Linked DNA regions of Homo sapiens. The protein of the gene in region 1 purifies or fractionates together with the protein of each later gene. This does not show direct contact. Each region holds a gene or a part of one and is shown in the gene's direction. Other genes may lie near its edges.

Region 1 (3,500 bases):
ATGCCCAATTAGATGAATGCCTAGTTGTATCTGCTTGTGCATATTGGTGTGTGCTCATGAGTGTAGGTGCATCTAAAGGGTGTGCTTGTGAGTGTTAAGGGCATATATGTGCATGTCCATGCATGTATGAGAGGGTGTATATGTGTGTGTGTATATATGAGTGTATCTGTCCTGCATTTGTGTAAGCAGGCTTTTGACTTTCTGTGAATGTCTGTATGTGGGTTCTCCAGCATTTTAAATTATATAGATGTCCGTGTGTGCATGTTCCAGTGTATATCACCTGTAGACAAACCTTTATGTCCACATCCGATTAGAGAAATGTTAATATAGGTGGGCACACTAATATAAGGAGAACTAATTTTATGGGTAGGGGAGAGTGTGTGAATGAAAATCTATTTTGTGGGTATGCCTACATGTGCACATTTGATTATGTATGTGAGTATGGCTGTGTGTGGGGGTGTATGCCTGTCTGCACACAAAAACACACACACACGCAAAATGCTGTGTGCATAGGTGAAATGATGCATTGTCTATATGTCTAATTGTGTTTGTGTGTACACTGTTATGTGTGAGTACATGTCTGTGGCGTGCATGAGTAGGTACTTGGGTGTGCATGTCTCATTATGTGTTTTGTCTGAATTTCTGAGTATGTGAGTGTGAATGTGTATTTGAATATGCCTGTGATTGTGAGTGTATATGTGGGTGTATATGCTAGTAGGTGTGAACATCTGGCTGTGTGTGTTTCATTGAACATGTCTGTATATGCCTGCCTGTCCATACACATATGTCCACACACATCTGTCCACACACACACGTGTGTGTGTGTGTGTGTGTGTGTGTGTGTGAATATGCCTGTGTGTATGCCTGTACATTCAGACAGGCATACACAGAGGTATATTCATATGTGTGAATGTGCCAGTTTGTACAGTTCTAATTATTTGCATGTATGTGTTTGTGTTTATGCATCTTTGTTCTGGAGCATATGTTGTAGAACACAATGTAAGGTAACGTCCATGCATGTCACTCTCAGCCTACAAGTGTGTTTAAGTGTGTGTGTGTGAGGATGTGTGTGAGGATGTGTGTGTGTCTGTGATGAGTGTGGATCAGTCCTTCTTGTATGGATGTACAGTTGTGTGCATGTGAGTGTACTTCCATGTGTACATGTGTGTGAATATACCTTTGTGTCCAAGTCCATCTGTGAGAATGTAGGTGTAAATGATTCCTCTTTATTGTGTAGCTTCTCATATGGGTGTATGAACTTGTAGGAATGTACATGGTGTACATATCTGGCTGTGATAGTGTGGGCATGTTTTGTGAGTACATTTGTATTTCCATGTCTGAGTGTAAGCATATGGGAATGAATTAATGAACAAGTCTATGTGCATGTGAACATGCCCAGTTGTGTGTACAAGTCTGTGTTAGGAATGTCTGCATATCTATACTTCATGTCATTTACAAGCATGTGCATATCTAGGTGTTTATGTGTGTGAGTGTGTAAATATATGTGGTCATGTCTGGGTGTGTGTGTGCACACATTTGGGAGCTTCCCTGTCTGTGTCCATGTTTGTTCATCATCTCCTTGGGTGTGATACAAAGTCTGTCTGTCTGTGGACATGTGAAGGTATGCCTGTATGTACCCCTGTGTTTGTGAGTGAATGTACGTCATTCATGGGCATTATGTCATGTGAATGTATGTCACGCATGCGTGCCTATGTTTAAGAGTAAATGGATGTACACGTATGACTAAGTACAGTGTGAGTGTGTCCATGTGTAAGGATGAGTGTAGGTATTTGTGCATGTGTCTGTCAGTCGATGTGAGAGAGAGATACTTGGCCTTGGGCCTGTGCGGATTGGGCCTTATTGACAAGGGGATGGAAAGGGAGAATACTTACAAGTCTGTGTACCTCAGTATGTATTTGTGTGTATGACTGAGAGTCAGTGGTGCCCTGCGAGACTATGTCTGTCTGTAAGTGTGTAGACATCCTGCAGATTGGCAAACTATGACACCTGATGCCTGTGACCCCCATTCTGGGGCTTCTCTGGCCTTGACCATGTACTGGGCTTTTGTGGGGGTCTCAGGATAATTCCTGTCATTATTCACACTCAAGAAGTGGGCACCAATCATGGCTGATGTCCTACTGGGGAAAAGAGGCCTATTTAGAAAAAGATTCCTTGAAACACAAAGACCTCCCTTCTCATCCCCCCAACCATCAAAGGCCCAGAGTAGAGTGGCATTGTATGATATCTAGGGTTGGTAAATAGTTTTCACTGAGAGGACCCAAATTATGCCATCCAGGCAGAAATCTAGATGTGAGTGTGTATATATAAAAGTGAAAGTATCTTAATAGAGTGTGTGTGTATGTGTGTGTGTGTGTGTGTAGACTGGTATATCTGGTGAGAGAGAAAGGATGTGGTCTGCATGTGTGTAAGAGAGAGCATGGGCCGGGTGCGGTGGCTCATGCCTGTAATCCCAGCACTTTGGGAGGCCAAGGCGGGTGGATCTCCTAAGGTCAGGAGTTTGAGACCAGCCTGACCAGTATGGTGAAACCCCATCTCTACTAAAAATACAACTGGGCGTGGTGGTGCATGCCTGTAGTCCCAGCTACTTGGGAGGCTGAGACAGGAGAATTGCTTGAACCCAGGAGGTGGAGGTTGCAGTGAGCCCAGATCATGCCACTGCACTCCAGCCTGGGCGACAGAGCGAGACTCCATCTAAAAAAAAAAAAAAGAGAGAGAGAGCACATGGGTGTATGGGTGTTTCTGGGTAGGGTGTGCGTGTGAGGCATTTGGGTGTGTTTGGGATTGGGGGGGTGAGTGTGGTTGTATGTAAAGTGGCCTGTGTGTGTGGAGGATGGTATGAGTGAGAGTTGGGTTGGGGATATGGGTGAGGATGTGTGTATTTGAGGGGTGTGTGAGTATGGGTTTATCTGGATGGTGAGATAGGGTGGGGGATACCTGGGTGGCGTATGTGTTTGCTGGTGTGGCTGTGTCTGTACTGTGTGTGTAAGAGAGTGTGGGTGTTTCCTGGGTGGAGTATGTATATGAGGGAGTATGGGTATATTGGGGTCAGGGAGATCCAAGTGTGGTTATATGTGGATGATATGTCAGTAGGTGAGAGCACAAGTGTATCTAGGCAATGGAAGTGTGTGATAGGGTGTATTGTGATGGTGTGCATGAGAAAGAGAATTTGGGCACATCTGGGTGAGGGTGGGGGTGTATATAATTGGGGGTGTCTATGGAGTGTGTGTATGGGTGGTGTGTGTGAGACAGTATGGATGTATCTGCATTGTGTGTGTGCAGTGTGAGTAGATCTGGCTGATGGTGATTAAGAGAGAATTGGGGGTCGAGATTGTGTTTGTGTGTGAGAGTGGGGGTGTTTCTGAGTGTGGTAGGGGTGTGAGCACGCATGTCTCCTGTGGGAAGAGCATGTATGTGTATCTGGATGAGGTGTGAGAGTTTGGGTTTAACTGGGTTGGAGGAGAGTGTGGATGTATCCAGAT
Region 2 (3,500 bases), on another chromosome or scaffold:
TGGAGGCTGGGAAGGCAGACAAGGAGCTGTCCTCTGCAAGGCATGTGCTCTGAGAGGATGGAGACAGGCAGATACAGCACGCCGGGTCACCCTCTGCAAATACAGTTTCCCAGATGTGATGATGCCCTCCTACTCCCGGAACCCCTGGTCCTGCGTCTTCTTCATCGTGTACCTCTCCATCGAGCTGTATTTCATCATGAACCTGGTGAGTGACTATGCCTCAGGCTACGCTGAAGCAGCCTGCCCCTACCCATGCAGCACTAGGCACTGTGGGAGTGGAGAAGTGGGGACTGTCTTCTGCCTCTCAGGGCAGAACGTTGGGGCAGGAAGTCCCAGATTCATAGTCAGGTGCGGTGTTGCAGGGAATGCCCTGTCGGGACTTCAGGAGTTCAGCCAGTTGCTGGGGGTGGCGTCCTCACCAAGGCAATGCTGCTGATGCTGGTAGTGCTGGATGTGAAACCCAGGCAACCCTGGGACCTTTTCATTCTTACATCAGAAATAAGCAGTTGACCCTCGGTGTCCACAGGGATTGTTTGCAGGACCCCCTGTAGGTACAAAGATCCACAGATGTTCAAGTCCCTTATATAAAATGGCAGAGTATTTGCAGATAACCTGTGTACATTCATCCTCTCATATATTTTAAATTATCCTGCATTACCTATAACACCTAATACAATGTAAAAGCTATGTAAATAGTTGTTATACTGGGCTGGACATGGTGGCTCACGCCTGTAATCCCAGCATTTTGGGAGGCCAAGGTGGGTGGATCATTTGAAGTCAGGAGTTCGAGACCAGCCTGGCCAACATGGTGAAACCCTGTCTCTACTTATGAAAATTAGCTGGGCGTGGTGGTGGGTGCCTGTAATCCCATCTACTCAGGAGGCTGAGGCAGAAGAATTGCTTGAACCCAGGAGGTGGAGGTTGCTGTGAGCCGAGATCATGCCGTTGCACTCCAGCCTGGGCAACAGCACGAGACTCTGTATCAAAAAAAAAAAATTGTTATACTATATTGTTTAGGGATAATGACAAGAAAAAGAAGGCTGTACATGTTCAGTACAGATACAACCATCCTTTTCTTTTTGGAATATTTTTGATTTGCGGTTGGTTGAATGCATGGATGGAGAACCCACAGATAAAGAAGGCCAAGTATATTATAATAACCATAAAAGCTGGCATTTAGTAAGCCTTAGCCACTTGGCACTATGCAAAGTGCTTTACATATGAGGATGAAATAATTTAATAAATAAACACAACCGTGGAGGTAGTGAGTATGGTTCTCCATGTGCAGATGAAGAGACTGAGGGTCAGAGTGACAGTGTGATTTGCCCATGGCTACATAGCTTGGAGTGGCCAGGCCAGGCTCATCCCAGAGCCCTGTTCCTAACCACTCTGTTCAGTTGCACTCACGTGCCAGAAATGTCTTGTGTATTTCTACCTCACTTATCAGGAACCATCAGAAAATCCAGTATAGAACACGTTCTGTGAAGGAGAACGTAAAGCCTCTGTGCTCAAAGAACTTTGAGGGTGTTTGTGGAGGTGTGGACAGCCTCCAGGAGTGTCCCAGCCATCACAGATCACATCCGACACCAGGCTGTTAGGCCGGTGCCCAGACCACACATCCATGGCAGAGCTAACGGGGAGAGGCTTCCGATCGAGTCCTGTGTTTATTTTTATGCTTCTGCAGAGCATTCTCACACCAGTCACCACAGTCAGGCCCAGTATAGAAATGAAAATCATCTTTTCCAGGTAGACTTGTGAAATCTAAAAAATTTTAAGTCCTTTTCTCTTTTTTGAGATGGAGTCTCGCTCTGTCACCCAGGCTGGAGTGCAGTGGCGCAATCTCAGCTCACTGCAACCGCCGCCTCCCAGGTTCAAGCGATTCTCCTGCCTCAGCCTCCCAAGTAGCTGGGACTACAGGCACATGCACATGCCGCCACACCCGACTAATTTTTGTATTTTTGGTAGAGACAGGGTTTTGCCATGTTGGTCAGGCTGGTCTCGAACTCCTGACCTCAGGTGATCCGTCCGACTCAGCCTCCCAAAGTGCTGGGATTACAGGTGTGAGCCACAGTGCCTGGCCAAAATTTAAGTCTTAAAAAGGAGAAAATATTTCCTTTTTTTTTTTTTGAGACAGAGACTTGCTCTGTTGCCCAGGCTGTAGTGCAGTGGCGCGATCTCGGCTCACTACAACCTCCGCCTCCTGGATTCACACCATTCTCCTGCCTCAGCCTCCCGAGTAGCTGGGACTACAGGCACCCGCCACCACGCCCGGCTAATTTTTTTTGTAGTTTTAGTAGAGATGGGGTTTCGCGCTTTGTTAGCCAGGATGGTCTCAATCTCCTGACCTTGTGATCCACCCGCCTCGGCCTCCCAAAGTGCTGGGATTACAGGCCACCGTGCCCGGCCTGAGAAAATATTTTCTTGTTTTAATTCCTCAAAACCAAGAAGAAATATGTTGAGTACTTCTTTGTATTTGATTTAATTCATAATATATTTAGAGCTGTGAAAATTTAGGGCAGCAGTCAACAAAGTACGACCTGCTGGCCAAATTTGGCCCATGGCCTGTGTTTGTAAATAAAGTTTCATTGGGACAGAGTCATGCCCATTTGTTCATGTATAGTCTGTGGCTGATCTCATGATATGACCACAGGTTAGTAGTCGCAGCAGAGATCATTTGGCCTTCACAGCCTAAAACAGTTGCTGTCGAACCCTTTACAGAAAAAGCATGCTGACCTTTGATCCACAGGGAAAAAATGGGGGACCAGTTTGAGGGAAAGGACCAGAGAGTTTCCCTTAAAACATTTTTAAAGACAGAGAAAGTGTTTCTAAAAAGGATTCTTTCAAGTTCTTCCCCGGCCTTCCATCCCCCTCTGATAAGCTAACTTTTGGTATTAGCCAACTCTAGAACGTTATTTCCTTGCATGCAGAGCCTCTCACTCCCCTTTTTCCTGGGCCACACGTGAAGCAGTGACTCACAAGGAGAAGTAACAAAGGGGCAGGGGGAGGAAGGGTCCTTCTGGATCGGAGGTCAGGAGGGCAGTGGGCAGGCAGCCTCCGCCTGCCACTGGCTGGAGTCGGACTGGGCTCAGAATCCAGATGCGCCCCTCTTGCTACTCTCTCCTCCCCTGGCTTGCCCCTGCGCAGCCTGGGACAAGCTGTAGCTGGAACTGGGGAAAGGAGTGTGGGAAAGTGGAGGGGAACCTGGGAAAGATGGAGTAACAATGCCTTCATGTATCTGAAGAGGGAAATTTACAAGCGGAACAAAGGGCCTTCCTCTGTTGAGACTTGGGAGACTGACTTCCTACCCCATGAGGTGCAGGCGAGAGGGTCTCCCCAGGGCCTCTCTGGGGTGACTGGGTAAGAGCCTTGCCTAGATGATGAACTCATACCCCCCTGCACTCCCTGCCCTAACCACTCAAGGTCCTGAGCTAGGGCTCTGTGCTTCTCTCCCACAGCTTCTGGCTGTGGTGTTCGACACCTTCAATGACATTGAGAAACGC
Region 3 (4,177 bases), on another chromosome or scaffold:
TCACGCAGTATTAAAATCTATTTCAACCATGAGGAGGTGTGACTTCTCTAAAAAAAAAGGGCGGGGGGTGGGGAGTGGAACACAATGACTCCAAAATCAGAAGTCACTTAGCCAAAAACACTGGTCCTTTGGTGCAGTGAACCGGGTACATGGACAGGGAGTCACCACCGGTAGTAACTCTTACGCATGGCAGCACTATAATACACCCCAGATATACAAATATTTACGGTGGTCAGAGTCCCCTGAATACTACTACTGCAATTTGTATTTCCTGATTTTGACGTATTGCAAAAGGAAAATGCAAAATTACAATTTTTGCAAGGGTCTGCTACCCCAAAATAAAGTTACAAAAGGTCCTTTGATGAGAGGCCTGGGGATTACAAAGACGTCTAAAGCACCATCCAGGTTCTTGCAATTAAAATGAGATGACAAACACGGAAACATGTGCCCTGCTGACGTCATGGAACGGAAAGGGGTGGCATCCTGCTGCGTCACGTCGACGTCATACAGCGCACGAGGGAAGTTACACTGGGGAAGCAATTTCCCCCAAGGGGCAACATTCGAGAAAAACAAGTTAGCTCAGACCCGAAGAATGACCACCCCACTCTAGGGGACGTCTTAAAAAGGGACACTCTCCCCTCTTCCAAACTGTATGATTCCCCTCATCAGGCAACAAGGAACTAATACTCGGGGTTTACAGGAACCAGGGGATGGGCCAGATATGGAGAAAGAGACGCCTCTGGCCTTGGGGGCTCGTTCTTGAGGGAATCAGCGTGATGGGGATGAGAAGGGCATCTTTGGAACGGGGGCCTTCTCCATAGGAAGAGGAGGCGAGTCCCCTGGCCATATTTAAACCACAGTTCTCCACGCCACCTGTGCGACTCGGGATCCAACCTCCCCGCACCAGCCCCAGTCCAGGTACCTGGAACTTAGTCCGATCGGTAACCGGCGACTACGTGGGGTACAGGTACCCGAGCGCGCCCCCGACAGACGCACCGACCTGCGCGCGCGCCGCGGGCAGGATGCGTGCGCACTCCCCGGACGTCCCGCCCCGCCCCCTCTGCGGCCCCGAAGCTGGGCGGCGTGCGCGCCCCCGCGCCGCGCCGAGCCGGGCGCTCGGAAAGGCGTCCCCGCGGTGCCTGACAGTTCCTTCCTCAGCGCCTGCCCCGTGAGTGACGAGGAGCGCGGAGTCTCGCCATATCAGGAGGGCCCTGTTACGTGAGGCTGTGCACCGAGACTATTCCAGGAAGAAGAGGGGACACTTGGTGGGCGGGGTGATTTCGGGCAGTCAGGTGGGCGACCCGCGTAGGCGTCTGAAAGGCCCGCGTCGTTAGGGAGGGCAGGAGTGGCGTCTCTGGTTACGGGGTCGGGCAAAGGGCAGAGGTCACCGTCCAGGTTGGACAGCAGCACCTTTGAGCGATGGCGGCGTCTGGGGAACCCCAGAGGCAGTGGCAAGAGGAGGTGGCGGCGGTGGTAGTGGTGGGCTCCTGCATGACCGACCTGGTCAGGTTAGTCCGGGGCCAGTTACTCAGTCTGCGGCTCGGGGGAGGAGGCGTGCCGTGCGCTATGCGCCCAGTGGAGCTTTTGGGCGCTGGGTCTCCAGGGATAGACAGTGCTAGCTTTGGGTATGAGCTGCAGGTTTTCGAAGCCTTCAGCCTACCTTCCTGGCATGAAAGAACTTGAGTATATAAAGGTAAATCTCAGGGGAGGGGACGTAATAGGCCAGGGTTTAGTGAAAGCTCTAATATTACTCAAAGCGCTCCCCAAAGACCTGCCCTCCAAAGACTTGCGCCCCCAAAGACCTTTCTTGGCCCGGCTGCTGAGCCTTTCCCCAAACGAGCCAGGGAACTTTGCCCACGTCATTTTACCTCCGAGAATGTGCCTACCTCACAGGGTTGTTGTGAGGACTAAATGAAGTAAAGTGTTTTGTCAAGCGTAACATTATCCAAATTGGGTATTATTCGTCTGAGCTTATTGTATAAAATAATGAGTTGAGCAGAAATCAAAAAGACTGTCACCTTTCACCATGTTGATTGTCGGCATTACTGCAGTATTTTATATTTACAGCGTATTTTTCAGCAAGCCAAGTATGAATCAAAATAAAAACATAAACACAGTATTTACAACCTCTGAAAACGATGATCAAATTATGATAGAAAATATGCCAAATGAAAATTGTTGAGTTAGGTCAGTAAGATTGAGTAGACAGATCCTTCTGATTTTTCTTTTTTTTAAATTAAGGTAGCTTTTCTGATTACAAAAGTAATGTATGTTCACTGTAAAATTAGTAATAAATTCAGATATTCCAAGAAAATCCTACCACTCCAATTACTGCAGTTCAGTCTTTTGATGAATATCTTTTCAGTTGTAATGCTACTTTGTGTTATAAAAATGATCAGGTATGCTACAGTAACACCTCATTCGTCCTGAAATGTTGCTTTTCCAAAGGGTAATAGAGAACGTGGAACTAAACAAAAAGGCTTTGGGACAATCAAAATAAGTCACCAAATTGCTGCACCAAACCACCTGTATTCTACTCAGAAAATAGGTCTAGGGTCTTCATGTAACCAATTTAACCTTACCTTAAAATATTTATAAGCTGTGTTACCAAATTTCCACTGAGATTAGAAAGGTGGGAGTTAGAGAAGAGACTGCTAGAGGCAGTTATAGTGACTGACGAAAACTTGAGGATGAGTAGGAGACTGTGTAACGAGAAGAAGCAACAAAAGAATTTTAAATACCAATGACCTTTATTTTTCCACAAATATTAGAACTATTCTGTCAGACACTGTGCCAAGATAAAAATACTTTCCTTTGGTGACAGAGCATAAAATTGAATCTAGTTGGAGACATTTGTTGAAGAGGCCTGTACATCTTTTTCTAGAGCAAGAGTAAGTAAACTTTTCTGTAAAGGGCCAGATAGTAAATATTTTAGGCTTTGCAAGCCGTATGTGGTCAAGGTCACATTTTTTTTTAACAACATTTTTTAAATGTAAAAACCATTCTTACCTCCCAAGCCTTACAAGAACATCCTGCAGGCCATAGTTTGCAGACATCTGTGTAGAAAGAACATTACTGTGTTTACAACACAATATAGCAATTGATTTTACTGGTGATGACTCTTTTCAAGAAAAGGTTATATGGTACTTACTAAATTTTGTATAAAAATAGAGCATGTATTTCACTTTAGAAAAAGTTTCATCAAAAATTCATAAAGTTGAGTTACATAAAGGAATAAACCTTCATCTAAAATGATTCATTCCATGGGAAATCCACCAAGCTAAATGTTTACCATGATTTTATGTGTGAAGTGGCAGAAGAGTAAGAAAACTAAAGTGGACCGGGCGCAGTGGCTCATACCTGTAATCCCAGCACTTTGGGAGGCCAAGGTGGGCAGATCACCTGAGTGAGGAGTTTCAGACCAGCCCAGCGAACATGGTGAAACCCCATCTCTACTAAAAATACAAAAATTAGCTGGGCATGGTAGCTGGCGCCTGTGATTCCAGCTACTCAGGAGGCTGAGGCAGGAGAATTGCTTGAACCTGGGAGGTGGAGGTAGCAGTGAGCTGAGATCGCGCCATTGCACTCCAGCTTGGGTGACAAGAGCAAAACTCCATCTCAAAAAAAAAAAGAAAAGAAAAGAAAATTTTCTCATACATCCTACCTGAATAAAAGTGTCAGGGTTAAAATTCAGAGCTACTTCCTTGTTACCAAACTGAGAGCTTTCTGTGAAGCTTGACCATCAGATACTAAAAATAACTATAGTACTTTGTGGGGTGGGGTAGGGGAGTGGTGTCAAAGGCCCATTTTAGCATCCGTCAGGGTTTTAAAGTCTTATTTCAGAGCTAGAAAAATTTGGAAATTATTTATTCTAGTCCTTCAGTTTTTAGATAAATAAACTGAAGCCCAGAGAAGAATTTCTCCTCTTGGCCATATTCTTTCCTTCATAAAATATCCAAGTTTCTTCTCTTCACATGAATCAGTAAAAATTTTACTGATGATTAGCAAAATCACTAGTAAAAATTTTACTGATGATTAGCAAAATCACTAGTAAAAATTTTACTGATGATTAGCAAAATCATTAGTAAAATCATCAGTAAAAAATCATTAGTAAAAACTGTATTCCCATATAGACTCTCTCTGCTAATTCCCACAGCTTTTCAACAAACTTTTCATG
Region 4 (3,500 bases), on another chromosome or scaffold:
TGTGTTTTGTTATTGCTGATTTCCACAAATCACAGTCTTTGAATTTTTCAGTGGTTCCTACTACTTTGTGATTAGTATTGGATTTGGAGTACTGCAGGATTTTTTCAGGGTTCTTGCTCCACTCTCAGCTTTTAGCAAGTTCTGCACATATCTCTTTGTGCTCTCACTGGTAGTTTGCTGTTCCTTATACTTTATTCAAGACTTGGTGGGGAGGGTGGGACTAGGTTCTCTTGTTGTATCCCTAGTCAGGCAAGCCTGTGCACCTCAGTGTCAGGGTGAGTATTAATGATCTTGCCGCTCTCCCTCTCTCCCAGCCTGTCCCCACTGTCCTCAGCCTGGTATCAAAAGGGTGGAGCAGGATACTCAACAAAAGCAGACCTTTGCTTTGTAAGATCCTGGGTGCAAGCAGGTATCAGCCTCGTCCCAGTAGTAGATGGCTTTTTTTTTCCTACCTCTCTTTCAGTGGCAGCTGACCTTTGCAAGTGACCAAGGAGTGGTCACATTCCTACCCCTCACCCAGCAGCAGATGGTTTTTGTTTCTACCTCTCTCGCAGCAGCTGGGCTTTTCCTTGTGCAGGAGGTACGAGGGTTTACTTTTTAGATATTTAAAACTTATCCTCAAAGCTATCTATATAGCATATTTAAATTGTTGTTTTAGATGGTTAATTCCTGATGAACAAAGGCTGAATCTTAGACTTTCAGAGAAAGATGCCTACTGTTTGGTTTTTATTATAATTTGTCAATGTGTTTGTTCTTTTCCAGCTTAGGCTTGATTTCCGACTCTTTTCACATGTTTTTCGATAGCACTGCCATTTTGGCTGGACTGGCAGCTTCTGTTATTTCAAAATGGAGAGATAATGATGCTTTCTCCTATGGGTAAGACTTTAAGAAAAAAAATCTTTTTATTGAAGTATAAGATATACACAAAAAAACACTAATCTTAAGCTCAGTGACTTGTTACCAATTGAACACAGGTGTAACTTTTGAATCTTTGAAGCCCCCACTCAGGCCTCTTCGAGTTCCTACCTCCCCAAGGGTAACCACTTTCATGACTTCATGGATGAGTTTTTGAATAGTATATAATTGGAATCTACAGTAATTTGTTGAGATTGTTACCATATAGAGGAATTTCTCAACTTTTTTTTGAAGAAGAAAGTTTTAGTATATGAAAATAGGATTTTTTTTTGCTTTTGCTTTTTTCTTTTTGAATGGATACTTTGCTGTTGATTTATTTAAAATCATTTTCTAATATGGTTTTATATTATGTTCTTTAGCTCTGCTTTTATGTAACAGTTCTTATATGCTTGCCGAGTTGGACAATTAATCAAATATTTGTAGAGCATCTGTATGCTGAAGGGACTACATTGGATCATCTTAGAGGCATAATTTGATTTCTGCCACCTCTGATTGGAGGAAGCAGTGGATTTTTCATTATTTGATTACACTGCCTGAGTGTTTCCTTTTTTGAGTTCATAGAATATTTTGCAGTATAGCTATATATATGTGTAAGCAGAGCTCAGGATGCATACTCTGTTTCTTTCTCTTCCCCACCCCTTTGTCTTTCCTATTCCCTCTCTCTTCTGCTTTCTTACTAATTCTTCCCCTCTGTCCTTTTCCTCCTCTTCTCTTCATTTCCCCTGTGAGTGCTCTTTTACATTCTCTTCCTTCTTCATCTGTCTCTCATATTTTCTGTCTCTCACTCTTGTTCCCTTCCTCAGCCTCTTACTCTCTCTTATCTTCTCCTGAACTCCCTTTTCCTTCTCTTGTCTTTGCTTCTTGTCGCTTGGGCTTGTGCTCATGCTCTTTTTTCCTCTCTCTTCCTTCTTCTGTCCCCCTATACCTTTCCTGTCTTATTCTTTGTTTTCTCCTGCTCTTTTCCTTTACCTTTTAACCCTTTATCTGTCAGGCTCAATCTCTCCTCCTCCTCTTCTCTTAACTTCTTTAGCTCTATTTCTTTTTTGTCTCCCTTTCCAAGTCTCTCTTTCCTTCCTTCACTGATTCTCCTTCCCTGAGCTCTCCCTTTCCGGTGCAGTTTCTCTCACTCTCTCCCTGTCCTTTTTACAGCCATCTTCTTTCATGTACTGTCTCTTAGGCCTCTTGTTATGTCTTTTACTCTCTGTCCTTAACTGCTCCCCCTTTCTCCCTGGCTTGGCTTCTTTCTTTAGCAGGCACACACTCTTTCTTTCACATGCTCTTGTTCTGTTTAGATATTTATTGAGGGTCCATATGAGTCAAATACTTTTCTAGTTCTAATGATGTAAAAATGATCTAATGATGTAAAAACATGCCTCCTGCCTTGCCGGAACTTGTCTCTTGGGCAAACAGTTCTGTAAAAATACAATAATAGCTATATATTGTGACAGTTGCCAAAAAGGAGATGTGGAGTTCTGTGGCAGAACTTGCTGATTTTAGTTATAAGCAAGGGATATGGTTATTTTTGAAATTATAAAAAGTGAGCCAAAAAATACTCATTGTACATTTTATAGTATAGAGCAGTAGATCCTATATATCTATAAATTCAAACAGCTTGACAGCTCAGATAAGAACGCTTTTTATGGCATGATATTGGTGATATGCAAATAATTTAAACAGTAGCTACTAAAAGATTCTTAAGTATATTTTAGATTATTAAAGAAAGATTATATCCAAAGTTATAATTTTTGTTGGAAAATTAGTAATTTATTTATATTATATATCAGAAATCTAATTAGAATAGCTTATTCTACAATCTTTCTGAATAAACAGTAGCTGACTATTGAAAATTCTCAGTTCTTTAACGCTTAGATTTTCTATTGTTTCCAATTTAGAATGTATTGTCTCCTGCTCTAAAATGGTTTTTAGAAATAGCTTTGAATACCTTCAGTACCATAGCAGATTTTAATGTTCAGCTTTAGCTAGTTGATGTAAGAGAATAATATTCTTTCCACCTTTAATTTAATCCTCTCCTCTCTTTATGTGTGTGTGTGTGTGTGTGTGTGTGTGTTTTCTTTTGGGAAAGATTAAAGAATAAAAGCTGGTACAATATTTAACACTATGAATAATTGGTATAGTAATAAGTAGCTTCATTTGTAAACTACTGGTGTCAGTGAATCAAAATGACACTGATTAATTCATGTTAAGCATAGGGTTGAATTCTCATAACCTCCCACCCCAATTCAGGATGACTGCTGTAGCTGACTGACTCTGCAATAGAAGAAAGAGTTGGGGAATATGAGAGCAAGCAAGGACTTTTAAGTATTTCTTTATATAAAAGTCATCTTTGTGTCTTGCCACACTCTTATTTTTTAAAGAGCAAAGACAGCTTAAAAGTAATATACATCCAGTAGGTAGATAGATACATACATACATGCGTATATACATATGTACCTATACTTAAATCTTTTCTATTTTTCTTCCTGGCTCAAGAATCTAAACACTAGCCATACTTAATTAGGCAACAGCACATTCATGAATTACATGTTCTAATTCTAAGACCTACTCAATCTGTTAAGTAAACACAG

The links.
Region 2: the proteins of GPR173 (region 1) and TPCN1 purify together in Homo sapiens (affinity purification with mass spectrometry; one large-scale study listed by BioGRID and IntAct). This does not show direct contact.
Region 3: the proteins of GPR173 (region 1) and RBKS purify together in Homo sapiens (affinity purification with mass spectrometry; one large-scale study listed by BioGRID and IntAct). This does not show direct contact.
Region 4: the proteins of GPR173 (region 1) and SLC30A7 purify together in Homo sapiens (affinity purification with mass spectrometry; one large-scale study listed by BioGRID and IntAct). This does not show direct contact.

Annotation. Positions count from the first base shown.
Region 1 is NC_000023.11:53,051,789-53,055,288, forward strand, and holds part of GPR173 (probable G-protein coupled receptor 173), read left to right. Parts: intron 1-3,500. UniProt on the Homo sapiens protein: Is a receptor for the SMIM20 derived peptides Phoenixin-14 and Phoenixin-20. It mediates the Phoenixin-14 and Phoenixin-20 augmentation of gonadotropin-releasing hormone (GNRH) signaling in the hypothalamus and pituitary gland.
Region 2 is NC_000012.12:113,273,464-113,276,963, forward strand, and holds part of TPCN1 (two pore channel protein 1), read left to right. Parts: intron 1-105; coding exon 106-205; intron 206-3,455; coding exon 3,456-3,500. UniProt on the Homo sapiens protein: Intracellular channel initially characterized as a non-selective Ca(2+)-permeable channel activated by NAADP (nicotinic acid adenine dinucleotide phosphate), it is also a voltage-gated highly-selective Na(+) channel activated directly by PI(3,5)P2 (phosphatidylinositol 3,5-bisphosphate) that senses pH changes and confers electrical excitability to organelles.
Region 3 is NC_000002.12:27,887,588-27,891,764, reverse strand, and holds the start of RBKS (ribokinase), read left to right. Parts: upstream 1-1,377; 5' UTR 1,378-1,419; coding exon 1,420-1,508; exon of another isoform or gene 1,509-2,309; intron 2,310-3,009; exon of another isoform or gene 3,010-3,056; intron 3,057-4,177. UniProt on the Homo sapiens protein: Catalyzes the phosphorylation of ribose at O-5 in a reaction requiring ATP and magnesium. The resulting D-ribose-5-phosphate can then be used either for sythesis of nucleotides, histidine, and tryptophan, or as a component of the pentose phosphate pathway.
Region 4 is NC_000001.11:100,906,090-100,909,589, forward strand, and holds part of SLC30A7 (zinc transporter 7), read left to right. Parts: intron 1-762; coding exon 763-876; intron 877-3,500. UniProt on the Homo sapiens protein: Zinc ion transporter mediating zinc entry from the cytosol into the lumen of organelles along the secretory pathway.